6 linked regions of the Homo sapiens genome follow. The protein of the gene in region 1 interacts with the protein of each later gene in a pairwise test. Each region holds a gene or a part of one and is shown in the gene's direction. Other genes may lie near its edges.

What was found.
Region 2: the proteins of SMYD3 (region 1) and ZNF57 interact in a two-hybrid assay, tested with the Homo sapiens proteins (one large-scale study listed by IntAct).
Region 3: the proteins of SMYD3 (region 1) and CYP39A1 interact in a two-hybrid assay, tested with the Homo sapiens proteins (one large-scale study listed by BioGRID and IntAct).
Region 4: the proteins of SMYD3 (region 1) and ZNF557 interact in a two-hybrid assay, tested with the Homo sapiens proteins (one large-scale study listed by BioGRID).
Region 5: the proteins of SMYD3 (region 1) and TRIT1 interact in a two-hybrid assay, tested with the Homo sapiens proteins (one large-scale study listed by BioGRID and IntAct).
Region 6: the proteins of SMYD3 (region 1) and NFYB interact in a two-hybrid assay, tested with the Homo sapiens proteins (one large-scale study listed by BioGRID and IntAct).

Annotation. Positions count from the first base shown.
Region 1 is NC_000001.11:246,500,780-246,504,279, reverse strand, and holds part of SMYD3 (histone-lysine N-methyltransferase SMYD3), read left to right. Parts: intron 1-3,500. UniProt on the Homo sapiens protein: Histone methyltransferase. Specifically methylates 'Lys-4' of histone H3, inducing di- and tri-methylation, but not monomethylation. Also methylates 'Lys-5' of histone H4.
Region 2 is NC_000019.10:2,899,783-2,903,727, forward strand, and holds the start of ZNF57 (zinc finger protein 57), read left to right. Parts: upstream 1-1,145; 5' UTR 1,146-1,263; coding exon 1,264-1,266; intron 1,267-3,945. UniProt on the Homo sapiens protein: May be involved in transcriptional regulation.
Region 3 is NC_000006.12:46,650,019-46,654,229, reverse strand, and holds the start of CYP39A1 (24-hydroxycholesterol 7-alpha-hydroxylase), read left to right. Parts: upstream 1-1,411; 5' UTR 1,412-1,647; coding exon 1,648-1,824; intron 1,825-4,211. Other genes in the region: SLC25A27 (mitochondrial uncoupling protein 4), read right to left, coding at 932-1,037. UniProt on the Homo sapiens protein: A cytochrome P450 monooxygenase involved in neural cholesterol clearance through bile acid synthesis. Catalyzes 7-alpha hydroxylation of (24S)-hydroxycholesterol, a neural oxysterol that is metabolized to bile acids in the liver.
Region 4 is NC_000019.10:7,079,703-7,083,202, forward strand, and holds part of ZNF557 (zinc finger protein 557), read left to right. Parts: intron 1-1,657; coding exon 1,658-1,753; intron 1,754-2,267; coding exon 2,268-2,350; intron 2,351-3,175; coding exon 3,176-3,500. UniProt on the Homo sapiens protein: May be involved in transcriptional regulation.
Region 5 is NC_000001.11:39,849,005-39,852,504, reverse strand, and holds part of TRIT1 (tRNA dimethylallyltransferase isoform 1 precursor), read left to right. Parts: intron 1-2,243; coding exon 2,244-2,386; intron 2,387-3,500. UniProt on the Homo sapiens protein: Catalyzes the transfer of a dimethylallyl group onto the adenine at position 37 of both cytosolic and mitochondrial tRNAs, leading to the formation of N6-(dimethylallyl)adenosine (i6A37).
Region 6 is NC_000012.12:104,118,899-104,121,210, reverse strand, and holds part of NFYB (nuclear transcription factor Y subunit beta), read left to right. Parts: intron 1-731; coding exon 732-811; intron 812-1,441; coding exon 1,442-1,474; coding exon of another isoform or gene 1,475-1,479; 3' UTR 1,480-2,312. UniProt on the Homo sapiens protein: Component of the sequence-specific heterotrimeric transcription factor (NF-Y) which specifically recognizes a 5'-CCAAT-3' box motif found in the promoters of its target genes.

The DNA of each region.
Region 1 (3,500 bases):
AATGAAATCACCTCATGATGTCCTTAAGGGATGCACATCTCTACTTCCTTAGGCTCCAGAAACAATGGTTACCAAGTTTTACATGATTTCCTTTGCTCTAGAGCTGTTTTGATTAGTAGCTTTAGTTCTGTATACTTGTTTTTGTTAATGGAGAAAGGTGAACCTGCTTCATGGCTTATCTTACCTTTTTCCTCTCATTAAGGAATGGCTTCTGGTTTTTCCGTGTTGTGCCTGGAAAAGAAAATGAAGTATGTAAGTTGTAGAAAGAGTAAATGGCAATGAAATTATAACCTGAAATCACTTTTTTTTTTTTTTTTTTTTTTTTAAGATGGAGTTTTGCTCTTGTTGCCCAGGCTGGAGTGCAATGGTGTGATCTTGGCTCACCACAACCTCCGCCTCCCAGGTGCAAGCGATTCTCCTGCCTCAGCCTCCTTAATAGCTTGGATTACAGACCACGCCTGGCTAATTTTTGTATTTTTAGTAGAGATGGGGTTTCACCATGTTAGTCAGGCTGGTCTCAAACTCCTGACCTCAGGTGATCTACCCGCCTCAGCCTCCTTAAGTGCTGGGATTACAGGCGTGAGCCGCTGTCCCCGGCCTGAAATCACTTATATTGTCCTTCTGCCGTTGCATGCATTTTTAATTTGATGGAGGTAGAACAGGTTGGTTGACAATTGGGTATGAGTTATGTGTATTTCCCGTTTGCTTTGGTGAGTGCAGCACATAAAATTCCATTGTTATGATTGTATTTGTAAACCTTCTCACTCCCTAGTGTAGTGCTCTAAGTCTAATCTTTTTTATATCCCCAGGGCCTACCACATGGGAGATGTTAATCATTCAAGGATTAATATTTTGGGGAACTTGAAGTCGCTGTATGTTTGTCTTTGGTTTTCTCAAGTTCCAAGTTGCCTGCAGCTTCCATATCAAGAGTTACTTCTGGCAAACTCTAATGATAGTTTCTTCTGTAGGGTAAAGAGAATAGCTCATCTGGCATTAAGGCTGAGAATGAGGCTTAGTGCCTCCCAGGAGGAAGGAGGATGACTTGGAAGTAGACGTGTCATCCCTTTCAGTCCTGGTGGATTGTGGGCAGCGGGGGGACAGAGGTAGGGAAAACAGATTGTGAGAAATATGTGTTCTGATCTTTCTTGGCTGGCTAAAGTTCTAGGGTTAGGGTGGGGATGTTAAATGGGTTGAGGGGACGGTCAGCAGTAGAAGGCCTTTTGCTCTGCTCCTTATGTGGAATCTTGAGAGGAGATGTTATGCAGGTTAGTGATAGGCCAACACGGGCCTATAGCACAGCAGTGGTAGAAGGAAGTGGCTAGATAGTTGAGTTTGTGGTACCAGGGGATTCTGAAATGCTCTCATACCACTGTGAAGGAGGTGGAGGAGCTTATTGGCCTGGTGGAACAGCTGGCGTCATGACAAAAGACTGTGTGACTATAGACTGAATGTCAGGATCACAGACTCCAGGGATGAGAGCCAGCATGACATCCTAAAAGATGAGATGGGACCAGTTCAGCCATAGGACCTGATTACCTCCTTGCAGCAGAGACCAGTGAGGATCCAGAGAAACAACACAGATCCAAGGTCTTCTTGCCACTATTTCTTCTAGGATGTCCGATAAGACCTTGGAGGGAAATCTACCCGAAAGCAGCCATTTAAACCAGCCCGGGTAAGGAGTTAAACAAAGTCTGAGTATTAACTGGAAGAGATTGAGATATTGTTTGACAAGTTTTAAATTTCCTGGATATTTATTAGAGTAGATATTCATGAGGAATATTAGATTAATTATAGAAAAAATGGCGCATATTCAGGAGACAGATTAGATGAGTTATAGAAGATAAAGCAGGCTGGGCATGGTGGCTCATGCCTGTAGTCCCAGCACTTTGGGAGGTCGAGGCAGGTGGATCGCTTGAGCCCATAAGTTCAAGATGAGCCTGTGCGACATGGCAAAACCCTGTCTCTACTAAAAATACAAATAATTACCTGGGTGCATGCCTGTAGTCCCAGCTACTCAGAAGGCTGAGGTGGGAGAATCAATTGAGCCCAGGAGGTGGAGGTTGCAGTGAGTGGTGATCACGCCACTGCACTCCAGCCTGGGTGACAGAGTGAGACCCTGTCTCAAAAAAAAAGAAAAAAAAAAAGGCAGCTGCATTTGAGTTGCAGTGTGAGTAAATGTGACCAGGCAATAAAGGGTAATAACTCACTGTGTTTGGTGAGATGATGGAATGTCTCTTGGCCAAGGACTGAACCTGGGGTGGAGATGGAAGGGAACATCTTCATATATGAGGGTAAGAAGAAGAGGTGCCAGAAAAGGCAACAGCAGTGGTGATTGAAAAGTTTAAGGACCGCTAGGGAAGTGGTTGCTAAGTGACTCAGCCTTAGGAGAGATTGGAAATAGTCTTCTAGGAGAGAAGCATAAATTGCCTCGTGAAATGTAGGATTGTTGAAAAGTGCTGAGGGTCTACTTAAAACTTGTGTTTGTTTATTTAAAGTGGGAACAGTTAGTTGGGTCATGTTTCCTTTCTCTCCCAATTGCCAGCTGCTTGGCTATGAGAACTGGATTTACCTAGGATTGCTAGGTTAGCATGATGGACGGAGAGAGGGGACGGGAAGTTGAAGTTGTAGGCAAGGGAGGGTGTAATTGTGGATCATGGTTTCTCAGGTAGGGAATGAGGTCGTAAGGAAGGTGATGGCCAGTGAAATGTGGCCGAATCAATGGATTAGAGGTCCTCATGTGGTCAGAGAAATGGTGAGTGGTCAGATAATGGGTTGACTTGATATGTACATGCTTAGAAGTAGTGTGTGTCTTGATACAACAGGTACGGGGTGTGGCAGAATGTGGCCAAGGTAGGGAGTAAGAAAAGATTTTTGGTCAGGAAACCCAAAGGCTGAGGTTAGTTGAATTATCTAAATAATGAAGTTACTAAGAATGTTAGACATTGGCATGAATAGTTTCAGCAAAGGCAGAATTCTCACATTGGCTAAAATAACCCAAGGTTTAAGGGTCAGTAGAGTAGAAGAGGCTAGTGGAGACAAGGAAGCACTTACCTCTGTGAAAATAATGTAAAAAGACGTTACTGGGTTTACGGCTGATTTTGTAAAATATGGTTAGCACCAGGCGTAAGTGAATTGCTGCAGTGTTACAGACTCTTCCTTGGAGGCCCTGAAGGTCAAGCAACTAGCAAAATCATTTCAAAGAGCAGAACCTTGAACGATGGCTTGAAGTAGGATTTGCAACTTCCTGGGCAGTGGCTAATGGGTCTAGGATTTGAAATAAGGTGGAAGAATTGATAATAATGTGGTTTGGGAAAGGACTTTATGGATGTGACTACATTTTTCTTTTTAAGTGGGAGTCATAATTCCTGTTTCTTCTACTGCTTCCTTTTCTTCTGTAACGAGGTTTGGGAAAGGGCTTTATGGCTGAGCCCTGGTGAAAACATTTGGTCCATGTGAATGCCACAGCAGAGGGCGTTCTTAATCAGACAGGATGACCTGCT
Region 2 (3,945 bases), on another chromosome or scaffold:
AAAAAAATAAATAAAACAAAAAACAATGTCCAACAAAAAAACAAATCCAGCGAGGCCAGACAGGATAGGGGCTCCCTGGGGTCCGCCCATTTTCGGGATCAGGTGACTCGAGGTTTGGTCCTTATTTTAGTGCAGGCTCAGATGTCGGGGGCGAGCCAAAGTGCAGGGGCCTGTGGGAAGGACAGGAGGCTGGGAAACGTTTGGGTAAAAAAATCAGGACACTGGCCGTGCGCGGTGGCTCACGCCTGTAATCCCAGCACTTTGGGAGGCCGAGGCGGGCCGATCACGAGGTCAGGAGATCGAGACCATCCTGGCTAACACGGTGAAACCTCGTCTCTACTAAAAATACAAAAAAATTAGCCGGCGTGGTGGCGGGTGCCTGTGTCCCAGCTACTCGGGAGGCTGAGGTAGGAGAATGGCCTGAACCCGGGAGGCGGAGCTTGCAGTGAGCCGAGATGGCGCCACTGCACTCCAGCCTGGGCGACAGAGCGAGACTCCACCTCAAAAAAAAAAAAAAAAAAAAAAAAAAAAATCAGGACACTGACAGCACGTGCTCCAGCACGGGGCAGGGCCTCCATGGGGTCCGCGCCCACGCGGGGCAGCGCGGTGACGTCACGGCTGAGGACCCCGCCCCACGAAGGGCTCACCCCACGCGACCCACGCCGCTCGCTCGCCCCTCCCCTCCACGCAGCACTCCGGCTGCTCCGTGGGGAAACTGAGTCTGGACTTCTCGTGCCCGTTCGGGAGAAGGACGCGGGAGGCGCGGCCGAGCTGCGGGGAGAGGTTGGGCTCACCCCGGGCCAGAGCGAGTTCGCGCAAACGGGAGTGTCCACCGCTGGCGGGTCAGCCACTAGCGTTGGCTACGCGCCGGTCACTCGGGCGACAGGAGGCGGGGCGGCGCGGAAGTTATCTTCCAATCAGGTGCTCCGGGGGCGGGTCCGGAAAACTGTCCAATCAAGGCACGGGGCGGACACCGGGAAGCGGATTGCAGGTTTGCAGTAGTGTCCAATCGAAGGCCCCAGGGGTGAAGGGGGCGTGTCCAAAACGCTGTCCGCTCAGAGCGTTGAAAGGGCGGGGGCTTAGAGATTGTCCAATCAGGGCGCCGCTTCCTGAGCTCCGAGGCCCCGAGGGCGGGACGTTTCGTCCTCCCTGCCGCGCGTGCCCTGCCTACCACGAGCGGCCCGGGAGTACCTGTACCTTTCAGCTGCGCCGGCCGCGAGGCCACGGAGAGCTCGCCTTGGAGAGCCCAGGAGCAGGGGAGACATGGTGAGTGCGAGGCAGGAGCAGAGCCAGGGGACGGTCGGAGCGACGGGAACCGGCTGGAACCAGAGTCCGCCGAAGTCTGCGGCCGGGATTGGCTGAGGGACGCGCGGGGCGGCGCAGGACTAGCACCTGGGACCCGGGGACGCCATCACAGCGGCCGGGCTGGAGGACTGGGGGCAGTTTGGGGGGACGGAAGGGGCGGCAAGGAGCTTGGGGGTAACTTAGGGGGAGGCCTGGGCAGGAGGGGGGCTGGAGGTAGTTTGGGGGGACGGTAGGGGCGGTCAGGGGTCAGGGACCAGTTTGGGGGGACGGCAAGGGACGGTCAGCAGGTTGGGGATGTTACGCGTGTCCGTATAAGAGGTCACCTGAGCAGGCTTAGTGTGAGCCACAAGGCTGTTTACTCACTTGGGTGCAAGTGGGCTGAGTCTGAGAAAGGACTCAGCAAAGGGTGATGGGATTATTATTGGTTTTATTTTTTTATTTTTTTTATTTTTGGGACGGAGTCCCGCTCTGTCGCCAGGCTGGAGTGCAGTGGCGTGATCTCGGCTCACTGCAACTTCCGCCTCCCGGGTTCAAGCGATTCTCCTGCCTCAGCCTCCGGAGTAGCTGAGATTACAGGCGCCCGCCCTCACGCCCGGCTAATTTTTGTTTTTAGTAGAGACAGGGTTTCACCATGTTGGCCAGAATGGTCTCGATCTCTTGACCTTGTGATCCGCCCGCCTCGGCCTCCCAAAGTGCTGGGATTACAGGCGTGAGCCACCGCGCCCGGCAATCATTAGTCCTTATAGGTTTGGGACAGGCATCGGAGTTAGGAGCAGTTTTTTTGAGGACAGTTGGTGGGTGTTACAAAGTACATTCTCAAGGGCGGCGACGATGTTTCAAAGTACATTCACAAGGGCTTGGGGGATGTATTGTCACAAGGGCTGGGAGGAATATTACAAAGTACCTTCACAAGGGCGCGAGCGTGTATTGTCACAAGGGCGGGGTACATTCACAAGGGCGAGGAGGACGTATCGTACAAAGTACATTCACAAGGGCGGGGGAATATCACAAAGTACATTATCACAAGGGCGGGGGGCTTGACCATGGTGCGGCCAGCTCAGAGAACCTTACAGGGGACAGCTTGGGGGGATGGCAAGGGACGGCCTGGGGGTCAGAGGCAGTTTGGGGGACGACCTCAGCGGTGGGAGTTAGCTGCCCTGGGGGTTTTGTTGCAGGGTATCACTAATGCTGTGAAAGCTTTATTCGGGCAGCCGGTGTCAGTAAATGTACTGTACTGTTCTCCTGTTTGGCTTTTTTCTTCTCCTTAGTGACAATAGGAAAATGTTCAAGTGTGTTTTCTGCCTTCTGGTCCGTCAGGATAACACCTGTTTATCGTGGGGTACAGGCTAAGCATGGCCTAAGGAAGTCTCTCAGGAATATTCTGTCTCCCACCAGAATTGTAGAGAAAGTGTGCGCAGTTCCACATCTTATAGCAGCTAGAGATGGATTAAAATGTTCATAAAAATAGTAGTTTTTCAAATGCCAAAGCAATCAGACAAAAAATAATAGTTATTCTTCCATACAAGGTGCAGAGTTTGCGACAGTGTGTGATCGTGTTCCATTTCAGTTCAGCTAGACATGAGATTAATGCAAATTCTGCAAAAACCTGTAAAACTGAGGCGTGTTCCATTCTGGTTAGTTTCCAGTTTGTCACCAGGAGTATTGCTTCACTGATCCATCATCTGTTTGCTGACTGGGAAAAGCAGTTTCTGGCCATGTAAAGTCATAAAGACTGCCTTGGAACTCCCTTCCCCCACTTACACAAGGGGTGGAAAGCACTGATTCTGCTGCATTCTCACTCTACGGGATGAGGGTCTTTGTGGCATTTAAAGTGTAGCACCTGGAGCAGGGAGGTGAGCCCCAAGACCGGTGACTCCAGCTGAGCCCACAGTTGAGCCTGCACTGGAGGCCGCTGAGGGTGCAGCGGGGTCTGGCTGGGCAGCCTCCACTTGCTCAGTCCTCCTGCCTCGTAGAACAGCCGCAGCGGGAACTGTTCATGCTGATTGAGGCTGCTGAGCATGGGAAAGACGATTGTCCTGGAGATGTGCTTGTGGGCGTTTTAGCCTTTCTGAGGTTGCACCTGTGCTGTCTTGGAGCCGTTTCTAAGCAGTGGGTTTAGTTTATGCTTTAAGTGTTGTTTTTCTTTTTTGGAGACACTGTGTCTCCCAGGCTGGAGTACAGTGGCGTGATCTCCACACATTGTATCATCCGCCTCCCGGGTTCAAGCAATTCTCCTGCCTCAGCCTCCCGAGTAGCTGGGATTACAGGCACTTGCCACCACGACCGGCTAATTTTTATATTTTTAGTAGAGACGGGGTTTCGCCATGTTGGCCAGGCTGGTCTCAAACTCCTGACCTTAAGTGATCCACCCTCCTCCGCCTCCCAAAGTGCTGGGATTTCAGGCGTGAGCCACCGCGCCCGGCCTGGATTAAGTTTTAATATAAACACCAGTGGCCTTACTGCCCGCATAAATAGGCCTCCGGCCTCTCTTCAACACCTGTGTGCTGCTCCCAGCGCTCATCTCTGTTCTGCCCCCAGGGTAACCACTGTCCTGATTTTTTTTTTCATTCTCTCTACCTTTACCATTTATTATTTATCACCATACAGAGTTTTAATTTTGCCTCCTTTGAATTTTTTTTT
Region 3 (4,211 bases), on another chromosome or scaffold:
TTTTATTTTTTTGTAACAGGCAAGAAAATGTAAGGGTAATCTTAAAATACACAGTTAAGGCTTCACAGGAAACACATGAGTATACTACTCACAAAATCCTTGGAATAAACGCTACTTGCTCATTCAAGGGCATCATCATTCCACTCTAGATGGCCTCTTAAAGTTTTTTCTTACTCATGTAGGCAGATGTAACTGCTCTTCTATGCTTTTATGACACCTAATAATATCTTCATTATAACAAGTAGCACATTATAATTGTCTTTCTCTGTCTCCCCAGCAGCCTGTAAGAAGGTCAGAACTGGGTCTTTTCAAATATATATCCACAGTCCCTGGTATTGTAGGAATTATAAAAATGTCGCAACTAATGGGTGTCCTGCCTTGGGTTTAGCAATCATATATTATTGACTTCTCAGAATCCTGCAAGGTAAACAGTATAGATGAATTACACTCAAAGAGGTCAAGTAGTCGATGCTCTGTGAGTGGCAGGTTAATAACGGAAGTCCCACAAGGTAGGTCCACAACTTGGACCCACAAGATAATGACAGTGTGGCTGTGTAAGACTATAAACCACAGAGATGATCTCAGTAAGGATGGAAAACAGATTACGTTTTTAAAAAGGTCATCCTCATGAAAAGGAAAATGATTCCTACAGAGGAATGACAGCTCGCGAAGCTTCTTAAAGTACAACATTCAAGCACCACAGCACATGCCTAAGGGAAGCATTAGAAGAGATTAGAAGGAAAAGGCCGTGGAGACCTCAATCCCTCCTCCTCCCACCGCGGGCCTGGCCTCCACCGCCACCTCTGCCAGGCGGGCATGGAAGGGGCGACCTCTCCGATGCGCACTGCCGGGCGCGAAGCCGCCCGCGCACCCTCCCCCAGCGCGGCGCGTGCCACTGGCCCGGGAGGCCCAGGCGTGGGCAGCCGGGTACCTAGCTCGGCCACGGTAGCCGCGCAGCCGGACAGTAGGAATTTGCTCGCTCGGGGCCATCTCTGGGTCAGCGGCAAAAGCCTCTCCTCCTCCTCCGGGACGGACATTCAGCAGTAGCGCAAGACGATAACGCACTCCTTCTCGCCGCTGCGCTGCACCGCGCCGCGGCGGCCGCTTCCCTGCCAGGGCGGCCCCTTTTCAACCGGCGAGTGGCCGGGTGAGGACCATTTCCCTCGTTCGGCTCGGCCGGGTGGACCCGCAACCTTCCTAGCAGTCCCAGCTGGAGTGGTCCAGCTGCCCCTTACACCCCAGAATAGAAAAACACAGCGGAGCCCAGGAGGTTACTGGGCAATGTAGTCCGCCGGGCTCCGCTACGTCTCTGATTGGCCGGCCGCGGGTCCCTCTGCGGCTCCGCCCCCGGCCTCCATGGCAACGCGGCTGGTTCTCGCCCGTCAGTCCTAGCCCGGCCCTGCCCCTCCTTGCATTTTTTCCGCGCTGGCTGAGATTCAAAGAGAAGTGGAGGTGGGAGGGAGCGACAATGGAAAAATCACCTGAAAACTGGGACAGAGGAAGGAAGCTACAGTTACGAAGGAGAGCTGCAAAAGTTGCAGCAGAAAGGTTGGGAGTCCCGACAGGTTCCGTAGCCCACAGAAAAGAAGCAAGGGACGGCAGGACTGTTTCACACTTTTCTGCTTCTGGAAGGTGCTGGACAAAAACATGGAACTAATTTCCCCAACAGTGATTATAATCCTGGGTTGCCTTGCTCTGTTCTTACTCCTTCAGCGGAAGAATTTGCGTAGACCCCCGTGCATCAAGGGCTGGATTCCTTGGATTGGAGTTGGATTTGAGTTTGGGAAAGCCCCTCTAGAATTTATAGAGAAAGCAAGAATCAAGGTATGTGGTCGTGGCAGACGGGGTCTCCAGAGGAGACAATGCTTTCTTTTTTAAACTTTCTTTCATTGACTCTTAAGTGCAGGGCTAGAACACGGGGAACATACCTGCTTGCCTCAACTAAAGGATCTAGTCATTTCTGAATTCCTCTACTAACAATTAACAACAATATCCTGTGCAAAATTTTGCGAAAGAAATGAAATACAATTGCAGCGTGCATCGACATTTTTGGAAGTAGAGATTAACTTTTCGTATTTTTACTTCATCGAAGTTAAGTTCCAAATGTGTATGTGTTAAGTAAATGTTTTCAGTAATTGGGAAAGATAAAGTGTAATCCAATTTAAGTTTGTGAAAATGAGTAATTCGTATCCAAATTGGAGTTAACACCAAAGTATTGTACAAATTGCTTGCACAGTTGGTCCGTACACAATAAACAGGCTCTGTATTTTTAGCTGACGTTGTTATTTGATGATGATGTACTCCATTTTCACTACGGCCTGAAGAGACTAGTAATCCTCCTTGTAGTAGATGTTTTTGTCTTGAAAGTATCTTTTAAATGTCTGAGCACTTTAAGGAACAGACCTTTATTAATGTCTTTTAAGTTTTATTCAATTTCCAGTCACAAATATTTTATGGTATTTGATTGTCTAATAAATTTGTATGATATTATAATTATTCTTATGAATTATAATACTTTCTGTGGTGACCCATTTTCCATCTGGTTAGCCCAATTTGTAGAATGAATTTATACGTAGTAGCATTATTTTACCACTGATCATTTGCCTTCAAAATCTCTGAGATTCCAATTTAGTAAAAAACATATAGAAAATTAAAGAGAACTAAGATGAAAATAAAAATAACCCAGAATATCACACCAGCTGTACTGTAAAAATTTAGTGTATTTATATTATTTTGGTCATTTTCCTATGTATTTACAACTATTTAATGAACAACAATGGAATAATAGTATAATACTCTTTTATGTGCTTTTGATTTTAACATATAATGTGAATGACTTTCCTGTACCATGAAATACTTTGAATCTTCCTTTTATGGCTATATTTTGTCATAGGAGGATACAATAGTTTACTTAAATCTCAATAGTTGGGTTTATAGGTTGCTGCCAAACTTTTTTCTTTCAGCCAGTGCTTCAGTGAACATTCTTGCGTGTTTGTGTGCATGTATTGATTGTGTGGTTGTACATTTTGCAATTATCTGATTGTTTACTCAGAATAAATTCCTAGGAGTAGAATTGCTGAGTCAAAGGACATGCACACTTAAATTGTTTATATGAATGTGTTACTTTTGGAAAAAGAAGTATGAATATGCAATTTTTATTTTCCATTGACTGTATGCAATTGCCTAACTTCTCAAATCCTGGGCCATACTGAATACCATAATTCTTTGCAATTTTTGCTAGTCTGATAGATGAAACATTATATCTCCTAAAGAAATACTCCTTTGTCTCCCACAGCCTTCCTTATGCATATGATCTTGATAATTTTTAAGGAACTGTTTTTTTACAAGCTTGTGTCAGAAGGCTAAATATTTGTGAGGTCTCTATTGCTTTCCTGACTAAACAAAACAAGTTATTGCTGGACTCTGTGTCTCACACCTGTAATCCCAACACTTTGGGAGGCAGGGGTGGGAGGATTGCTTGAGGCCAGGAATTTAAGACCAGCCCGGGAGATATAGCAAGACCTCATTTCTACAAAAACTAAATAGAAAAATAAAAAATTTAATCTGGTCCAGTGGCACATGCCTGTAGTCCCAGCTCCTCGAGAGGCTGAGGCGGGAGGATTGCTTGAGCTCAGGAGTTCCAGATTCCGGTAAGCTATGATTGAGCCACTGCACTCGAGCCTGGGCAACAGAGCGAGACCTTGTCTCTTAAAAAAAAAAAAAAAAAAAAAAAAAAAAAAAAAAAGAATATGACTGCATTATTTGATGTTTTACTACTAAAAGCTTTTAAGGTTCACTCTTGTCTTTTCTTGTACCCTTAATCTGGGCAGTATGATAAAAAAAAAAGCCAGAGTGCTCCCACCTTTGGTGCCAGGGGAGATTCAAATCACACAAACCTCAACCTTCATGCAGGAAGGCTCACACCAGCCTACCCCCTAACCACAATGAAACCCTAAGACCTGTCTCTTTTCACTGTTTTCTCAAGTCATTTTCAGATCAGCTTGAGAGGACTGCCCTTCTTTCCCCAGAGAAGTCTCATTGTGTATGAAATAAACCTCTTCATACCCTCTCAAGGTGTGTATGTGTGTATGTGTGTGTGTGTGTGTGTGTGTGTGTGTAAATGTAGTAATTGTCTTAACATCCAAACCAGATCTTGGGTGGGGGTCCATTCTGAGTTTTCGCAGTGGCTGCAACAGGTACTCAGTAGACTT
Region 4 (3,500 bases), on another chromosome or scaffold:
GTCTGTATTGGTCATGTGTGGCCACTGAAGTCTCTGTTCTGTTAGCTTAGTGTTCAGCTTGGGATTAATTTGTCAGAGATTTTTTTAAATACCTGGAACCCAAAAGATGACCAGTCTTTGCCAATGGATCTGAATTACATGTTGGAGCATGCCTTCAAAACTCAGCTAAAGCATCTTACAACTCTGACTTAGCCTTCAGTTCCTTCTTATGCAGAGCCTGAAGGTCAGTCAAAGGTGAGGGCTTGGTGCCTTCTCAGATCTTCTCTGAGCATGTGTTCATCCCTGGGTATGAGCATGGCCTTCTAGAAATGTGTGGAGGCCGGGCGCAGTGGCTCATGCCTGTAATCCCAGCACTTTGGGAGGCTGAGGTGGGCGGATCACCTGAGGTCAGGAGTTGGAGACCAGCCTGGCCAAGATGGTGAAACCACATCTTTACTAAAAATACAAAAAAATCAGCCAGGCGTGGTGGCAAATGCTTGTAATCCCAGCTACTTGGGAGGCTGAGGCAGGAGAATTGCTTGAACCCAGGAGGTGGAGGTTGCAGTGAGCCGAGATCACACCACTGCACTCTAGCCTGGGCGACAGAGCAAGACTCCATCTTGTGGGGGAAAAGAAGGTGTGGAAAGATGCTCTACTCCTCAGAGCATCTTGTTCCCAACTTCTCCTCCCAGGTTTTTTGGTTAGTCTTTTGTTTGCTTCACAGTTTTCCCTTGCCCCATTGAGCAGTGGCTGATTTGCCTTTAGATGTGTTGGGACACACTTCCCTCTCCACCCTCCAGCTTCCATAGGTGTAGCCTCTTCAGACCTGGGAGAGTTTGGAGTTACACAAATAAAGGGAAGCCCTTTGATCCAGCCCATCAGGGAGCCAGCAGACAGGTCAGAAGAGAACAGCCACAGGTTTTTGAGAATAAGGTGCATTCTGTTCCCTTCAGCACTAGAAACACAGGTTGTTGTCCTCAAGGCAAAATGGGGAATAGAGTGTGCAGCTAGAGTCAGTTAAAATGTCACAAATCTCTCTTACCCAGATTCAGCTGTTTGTCTTGATTAGGCATTCTCCTGTGGCTGTAAACTTTTGATGACATTCAAGAGCTCCAATGAAGTTGATTCTGTGTTTGCCCATTTACATACTGTTTTTGTGAAGGGATGGAGTTGTGGAGTTCCCTACTCCACTACCTTCACTGACATTACTTCGTTTAAGTCCTTCATAAGCACCTCTGTTCCTAGGTCTGTGCTGGGATGTGGGAGTAGTGAAGAATGCAACAGACATGCCCCCCACCCTCATGGAGCTGTCTGTCTAATGCTATCTGTATGAAATGAAGATCTCCTTCTTTCCCTGACTATATATTCTCTGTAGTTAAATCTTTTGGGCTTTCAGATTCTGTATTTAAACCTGGACAGGGGCTCCTGGGACCAGTTATCCTGCAACCACCCTAGATATTGCTTGTGGGGTGTGTGTGTGTGTGTGTGTGTGTGTGTGTGTGTGTGTGTGTGTGTGTGTGAGTGTTTAAGACGGTTGCTATATTTATTCAATTTTGGCATAATTATTTCTCTGCTCCTGAAGTCACACCTCTTCACCTTCAGAACTGATTTCAGTTTCATGGGAGAGCTTGTCTGCTGCACAGTCCCCCTACATCATGTGTCTTTTCTCCATGTACAGGGAACCAAGTTGATAAACCTAGGCTGATCTCCCAGCTGGAGCAAGAAGATAAAGTGATGACAGAAGAGAGAGGAATTCTCTCAGGTACCTGTCCAGGTGAGCACCAGGTGGATATAAGTCCTTGTGAGGAACAGCTCTGGCCAGGGACTGAGAAGTTGGGAGTATTATAATACATTAGGAAATATCAGTCAGAGAACTGTGTAAATGCCCCTTTTCCCAAGAAGGCCAAGAACGTTTGGTCTGAGCCCCCTCATGTACCTTCATGACTTCCAACTTTCTGTCATCTCATACTTTACTTGGGCCTCAGGGGAGAAAAAAAGACATCTCTTTTTCTGAAATTTAAGTCTCCTATGAGCTCTTTGATCAGTTTCAGTCCACCTTGCCTTCCTGACAATTCCTTCATTCTGTCAACATCAATCTCAATCTTCCTAGAGTCTTTCTTAAACATTGCCTAAAATTTTCACACCCATATCTCTTTCACCGAATGCCTTCTCAAAAACCCTCACCTCTCAGATTCTGCCTTCACTCACGTATGCATTTTACTATTTCACCATCAACTTAAAATTTGCCTCTTTTCTATCAACTTAAATTTCTTTTTAACTTGTTTCAGATGTGGAGAATCCATTTAAAGCCAAAGGGTTAACTCCTAAGCTGCATGTTTTTCGAAAAGAACAATCTAGAAATATGAAAATGGTAAGACTAACATGGGTGATTCCTGGTTTTTTTCATGGTAGAATGCCCTACATGAGAAAAGCCACAAGGACTGGCCTTGTTGGCCAGGCACAGTGGCTCATGCCTTTAATCCCAGCACCTTGGGAAGCTGAGGCAGTTGGATCATGAGGTCAGGTCAGGAGTTGGAGACCAGCCTGGCCAATACGGTGAAACCCCATCTCTACTAAAAATACAAAAAAAACTTAGCTGGGTGTGGTGATGCGCACCTGTAATCCCAAATACTTGGGAAGCTGAAACAGAAGAATCACTTGAACCCTGGAGGTGGAGCTTGCAGTGAGCCGAGATTGTGCCACTGCACTCCAGCCTGGCGACAGAGCAAGACTCTGTCTCAAAAAAAAAAAAAAAAAAAGTGGCTTTATTAAATAGTTATTAAAGGAAAGTGTCATTTTTTTCAAAGATAAAGTAGTACCTCTGGAGAGATACTGTGAAATTATTTTGAATTTGGAGAAAAGCATTAGTTAGCCCCAAACTTGTTTTTCCTGAGAATTCCCACAAGTAAATATTTCCAGTAGTCTGAGTCAGATATTGGATATTTGAAAAAGAAATTAGCCTTAAATTTATCAAAAATACTCTGTGAATATGATAAAGATTTGTAGAAAGAATCCATCTTCTTTAAATGCTAAGAATTCAAACTGACAGAAGCCATGTACCAGCACTCATGATGGCAAAAACATTAATTCCAATACTATGATACACAACAGAATTCCTGGGAGAGGAAATTCCTCTGACAGCATTCAATGTTAAAAATATTATAAATGGTACTTATTGTCATCTCTTAATCAATAGGAGAGGAATCATCTTGGAGCAACACTCAACGAATGTAATCAGTGTTTTAAAGTCTTCAGCACAAAATCTTCCCTTACACGGCACAGGAAGATTCATACTGGAGAAAGACCCTATGGCTGCAGTGAATGTGGGAAATCCTACAGCAGTAGATCTTACCTTGCTGTTCATAAGAGAATCCACAATGGGGAGAAACCCTATGAATGCAATGACTGTGGGAAAACCTTCAGCAGCAGATCTTACCTTACTGTTCATAAGAGAATCCACAATGGGGAGAAACCCTACGAATGCAGTGACTGTGGGAAAACCTTCAGCAATTCCTCATACC
Region 5 (3,500 bases), about 210 Mb from region 1:
GTTTTCCCCTAGGGCCTATATAATGTTGCTTCATTTTCTATTTGATCTTTGCTTGTATAACAGTTTTCATATACATTTTTTCTGGCATGCAGTTTGTTTACATTGTGATTTGGGTTTCATAACTGATTATGCAATGCCGTGTTCTGCCCCAGCAGCTTTCCCAGTGGGAGGTGGATTTTATTAACTGTCTCACAGATCAGCTCACCTTTGCACATGGAAACTATCTGGTAGGGAAGAGAGGTAGTGAATGAACTCACAAGGTCATGTTTTTTTAGGTTGTTTTGGAATTGCAGCCTCATGTTAGGTTTATTTTTCTGCAGTATTAGGAGTGATACCACTTCCAGCATAGTAGAACATCTAATGAAGGACCTGTTCTATTGATGGTTATACAGATTAAATATTAAAGTAACATCTCATATTCATAGGGGTTGTGAAGTATTCCACTCAAATGAATTTGATATTTTTCCTCCTAATTTTACCCCCCTCAGTGAAACTTAATGTTAGAATATAGGATTTAAAACATTCATTATTATTATTACTTTTTTTTTTTTTTTTTAAGAGATAGAGTCTTACTTTGTTGCCCAGGCTGGAGTACAGTGGCACAATCATGGCTCACTGCAGCCTTGACCTCCTGGGCTCAGATGTCCTCCTGCCTCGGCCTCCTGAGTAGCTGGGACTACGGGTGTGCACTACTATACCTGGCTAGTTTTTTAAATTTTTAATTTTTTTTAGAGATGTTTTGCTGTGTTGCCCAGGCTGGTTCCAAACTCCTAGGCTCAAGCGATCCTCCTGCCTCAGCCTACCGAAGTGCTGGGATTATAGTCATGAGCCACAGTACTCAGCCAAGAAAAGGATTTCTTCAGGTAGGGTTGTCCTTTGCACGGCAGGGGGGTGGGGCACAAATTGTAATATCTAAGTTTTTTCACCCCCTTAAAGGCAATGTATAACCTCATTAAGAATGCATGTTTTAGATTAATGAAGTTTATACTTTTCAGTATCCAAACATTTTAAACACTTTAATAGAAAACATTCAATTTTTTTTAAACCTAGGAACATTATGATAAACATTCATTTTTATATTGTTTTATTACATGATTCTAGAGCTTGGTGTTTATTCTCTCCTTTTACTAATCAGTTCTTTCTTATCACTTCTCATTTTGCTGCGTCTAAACGAGTAATGAGTTTGAGAATTTTTTCTTAGTAAGAGTCAATAGGTTCTAAGCAAGAGCTCTAGAGTCTCATTTAGAGAATGAGGACTTTCTTTTTTTTTAATCTTTCTTTTGGCTTGAGGCTGTATTTTAACTCCAGATAAGTGAGATATCTATTACTACATTTTTTCTCATAGATCTTCTTTGAGAAACCAGTGATACTGAAAGACAAGGGGGTCTACACTCTTGCGTTAGGGTTTCAGGAAGTAGAATTGGGTCAGGAAGAGAAAGATCACTTTCAGGCTGATAAGTTGCAATCACCCAGAGTGGTAGAGTGTAGATTTGGGAGTTAAATTACCTAGTGCTGCATAACATAATAGATACGGACAGAAGTGGATGGTGGCTTAAGAATAAGTATGTGAGTTCTTTTCTCAGTGATCTTTGTGCCAGTAGAGCACTGGATTAGCCAGGAGCATTCTTCATTAATTTGACATATTTAAAAAGAAAGCTGATGAGCTGGATGTACAACATGCTTTTGTACTGTGGGAAAGGCACGCCAGCCAGACCAGACTTGTTGGCTTGTTACAAAGTGTCCCAAACAAGCTCTTTTACTGTTTATCTGAAAGTGAGTGAGTACCATTCTGTTTGTGTAGAAGAAACCTGTTGTTTCTGAACCTATTTAACTGATTTCAGAATAATTTATATATCTTTAGAAAAATAATATTATTTCTTACTTTACCTAAAGTTTTCTTTAGTACCCTTTTCTGAGTAGCTGTAGGACTGGAGTAACCCTAGACCTTCATGTCTTTTGGAACTTAATGCAGTGAAAATGAGAATAAGCCTTTCTGCATGCCCCCTTTTTGAAGAGACAGGGTCTGTTGCTGCTTAGGTTGGTCTTGAACTCCTGAGCTCAAGCAGTCCTCCCAGTTTGGCCTCCTGAGTAGCTGGGACTACAGATGTGCACACTGTCGTGACTGGCTTTCAAGAAAGAGGCTTTCTGTAATAAACAGCCTTTCTCCTTGTTTTACTTGAGAATGAATATTTTCTATTGGTTTTTATGGGTGTGCCCCCTCCCTCCCCTTTTAAATTACTTAGGAGCTTGCAAGTTTTTGAAGAAACAGGAATCTCTCATAGTGAATTTCTCCATCGTCAACATACGGAAGAAGGTGGTGGTCCCCTTGGAGGTCCTCTGAAGTTCTCTAACCCTTGCATCCTTTGGCTTCATGCTGACCAGGCAGGTAACAGCCCTTTGATGCCCTAGAGTCCATCTGTGATGGAACTTGGAGTAATAAGTTACTGTATAGAAAATGCTGAGAACCATGGGTGGCTCATAATAAACACTAAACAAGTATTAGCTATTAATTTTATTATCATTATCATTATTTGTTGGCTTAGGCACAGTGCCATTCCCCTAGATATCTGTTTGGAAAGGGAGAAAGGATAGCCCTGGCATTAGGAGAAGACATCACAGGTAGAGTGGGATGGGATGGACGGAATGGGAAAGAGACTGCCATCCAGGGAAGGTCCAAAGGAGAAAAAGAAGGCAGTCTCTTGTGGAAGGTTGGCTGGAGGCTAGAATGTTCTAGAAGCAGTATGCCTTATAATTAGCTTGCTAGCCTGATGGTATTTTGTTGCTAAAGTATAATTATGTCCGTGATAGTAGTAACTTATTCATCCAGCAAACATTCAGTAAGCATTCAATGAAGTGCTGGGTATTCTGTGTGGTACTTCGGTTTCAGAGTTGAAGAGACAGTGCCTTTCCTTAAGGAATTCCCAGTCTAGTGGGACAACAGACAAGGAGATAGATACTATCTGTCTGTCTATTATTTATGTGATAAATGCTGGGCTAGATATATTTTCAGAGTGCTGTAGGGCCACAGAGAAGGGATGACGAATATTATCTTGGGGGGAGTCAGAGACCAGTTTGCAAAGGTAGCCTATGATAGGCCTGGAAAGATGACATCATTATGTGGACAAACAGTAGAGTGTAGCACTGAAGAGCACAGGCTCTTGAGGCAGACTGTCTAATAGCAAATTCCTGCTCCACTAGCTTCTAGTTATGTGAATTGTTAAGACAAATTAGTTTACCTTTCTGTTTCCCAATTCTCCTGTAAAATAGAGATAATAGTAATAACACATATTTCCTAGCTTCATCAAGGATTAGATGAATTAATACATATATAGTGCTCAGAATGTGCCTGACACATGACGGGTCCTCAATAAATGCAAACTTTCTAGGAAGGTTACTGTTGCTGTAGGCCAATAAATCACAATGATAGAGATGTAGAAGAACATAATTAAAATGGTGACAATCTGTTGTTAAATTAATCTGCCATAAATTGATAAAAAAGG
Region 6 (2,312 bases), on another chromosome or scaffold:
GATTGTTAGCAATGATTCATACTAAGTATCTAATGGTATTTTTGGAATGTCAGCAGTGAGTATTTTGACAAAGCACTATTTTAAATAGTTCTTATCAGTTCATGCCCTTTTATTTGAAGTCAGTGAGTGATAAGTGTAGAAAAGTTTAATTCTGTAGACATTATAACCTTTCACTGATAGTTCTGACTGAGTTCTGTAGCCCCTAGTTTTTGGTGAAGATTCATATGAGATAGGAATATTAAGGAAAAGTTTGTAATATAAAATCTTATGATTTAAATAAATTTCAACTCAGTTTTTTTTAAATTGAGTATCATGTTGTCATATTGGTGAAATAAAAGGGCTATGTTGAGTAAATTTCTCATTATATATATTTCTCATATGTAAACTATATGCTGCTCAGTTATATGTTGCTCCTAGCCAAACCTCATGGTGTAGTGTAGTTTAATCATGAATCAGAAACTTCATCCAGTCTGTCTACAGATTTGTACACATGGGCAGTTAGCTAAGGTACATGTTAGAGATAGGAAAATTGAAAAACGCAATATAAAATAATGTGGTTTTTAGGGAACATTTTTTAAAATGGAAAATTGGAGGATTTATTATTTTGTCCAAGACTACATCATTGATACCGGGCAGAATTGTAATGAGACATTAATGGTACAACCTTAAGATACAACCCAAGAAAGTAGATATAGTTCATTTCCCTCTTTAACTAATTTTTTTTCTTTTAGCTAACCAGTTACCAGCTGGCTTAATAACCACAGACGGTCAACAACAAAATGTTATGGTTTACACAACATCATATCAACAGGTACAGTCCTTTGTATTTTAAATGCTTAAAAAATTTGATTGTATCGACAGGGCCCCATGGCTCATGCCTGTAATCCCAGCACCTTGGGAGGCCGAGGTGGGTGGATCACCTGAGGTCAGGAGTTCAAGACCAGCCTGGCCAACATGGTGAAACCCTGTCTCTACTAAAAATACAAAAATTAGCTGGGCGTCATGGCGTGTACCTGTAATCCCCTCTGCTTGGAGGCTGAGGCAGGAGAATCACTTGAACCCTGGAGGTGGAGGTTGCAGTGAGCTGAGATCACACCACTGCACTCCAGCCTGGGCAATAGAGTGAGACTCTGTCTCAAAAAAAAAATTTTTTTTTTATTATATCTATTGATATAGTTAATTTCAACATGCTATTAAGGACCTGATAAAGAAGGTTATTAAAATTGTGTTTTCTCAATGTAGATAACAGTATATAGTGTTCTCTTAATAGTTAAAAATAAGCATATGTTCATATTTGCATAGGAGATTTCTAGAAAGATACACAAGAAATGGGAATTAGACTTGTTATTGTCTTTTTATTCACTGAATTTTTATAATATGCATATGGTACTTTTAATCTCCTTTTCTTTAATTCTGCTCAATTTAAATTTTCTAATCTTAGATTTCTGGTGTTCAGCAAATTCAGTTTTCATGATCTGAAGAAATGATGGAATGGGGAGTGTAGAGAAATGAGAGTCTGTATGATTCTGGAACAGAGACATCAGAAGGAAAGACTGGTGAAAAGATGTATCTTTGTATATTAATAGCTGTAATGTAGCTTCCTGATGCTTGACTAATTGAGGTGTTAATTCTGACTTGAGAATCTTTTTCATGAATGATTTTAAAGAAAAATTTGGATTTTAAAGGTATTAAAATATTTTTGTTTTGTACGAGAGTTTGTTGCTCTGTATGACTCCTGTATGCATTGTATATTGCAATTTATTACTGTCAGAGATTTGTAGACAGTTTCTTATTTTCATATTGAATCATGTTACTTTTGTAATTCAAGTAAGCGGCTGGGTTAATTCATGATGTTTGCCCTTTTAATAAAATATAAGGGTAGAGTTCATTTTGAATGCAAGTTGCCTTTATTATAAATTTGAGTTTGTCTTGGTTATACCTTGCATGATAACCTAGCTAGATTTCTAGCATTTGCTGTATTTATTAAAATTATTATTTTTTTGGTAAAACATTAATAGTTTAAGCAGCATCATTTTTTTAAAAAATGTAATTGAATAAGTGTGAATGCAGAAGCAAATATTGTCTGCCCTGTTAAACTTGGTGCCCATTAACAGTGTTTACACTGTTCATCGTGCCTGTTAATGTAGTTTTAGTTACTGGAGCTTTTTTAAGACTAGATTTGGTTTTGAGTTACATTTTTAAGAATGTGGGAATATATTTAAGTTTAATGTAGTCCTAGTGCTCTTGAAATGGTGCCCCTTTCATTTGGTACATGATTTTTTTTCAAATCATATCTTCAAGTACTATAGTAT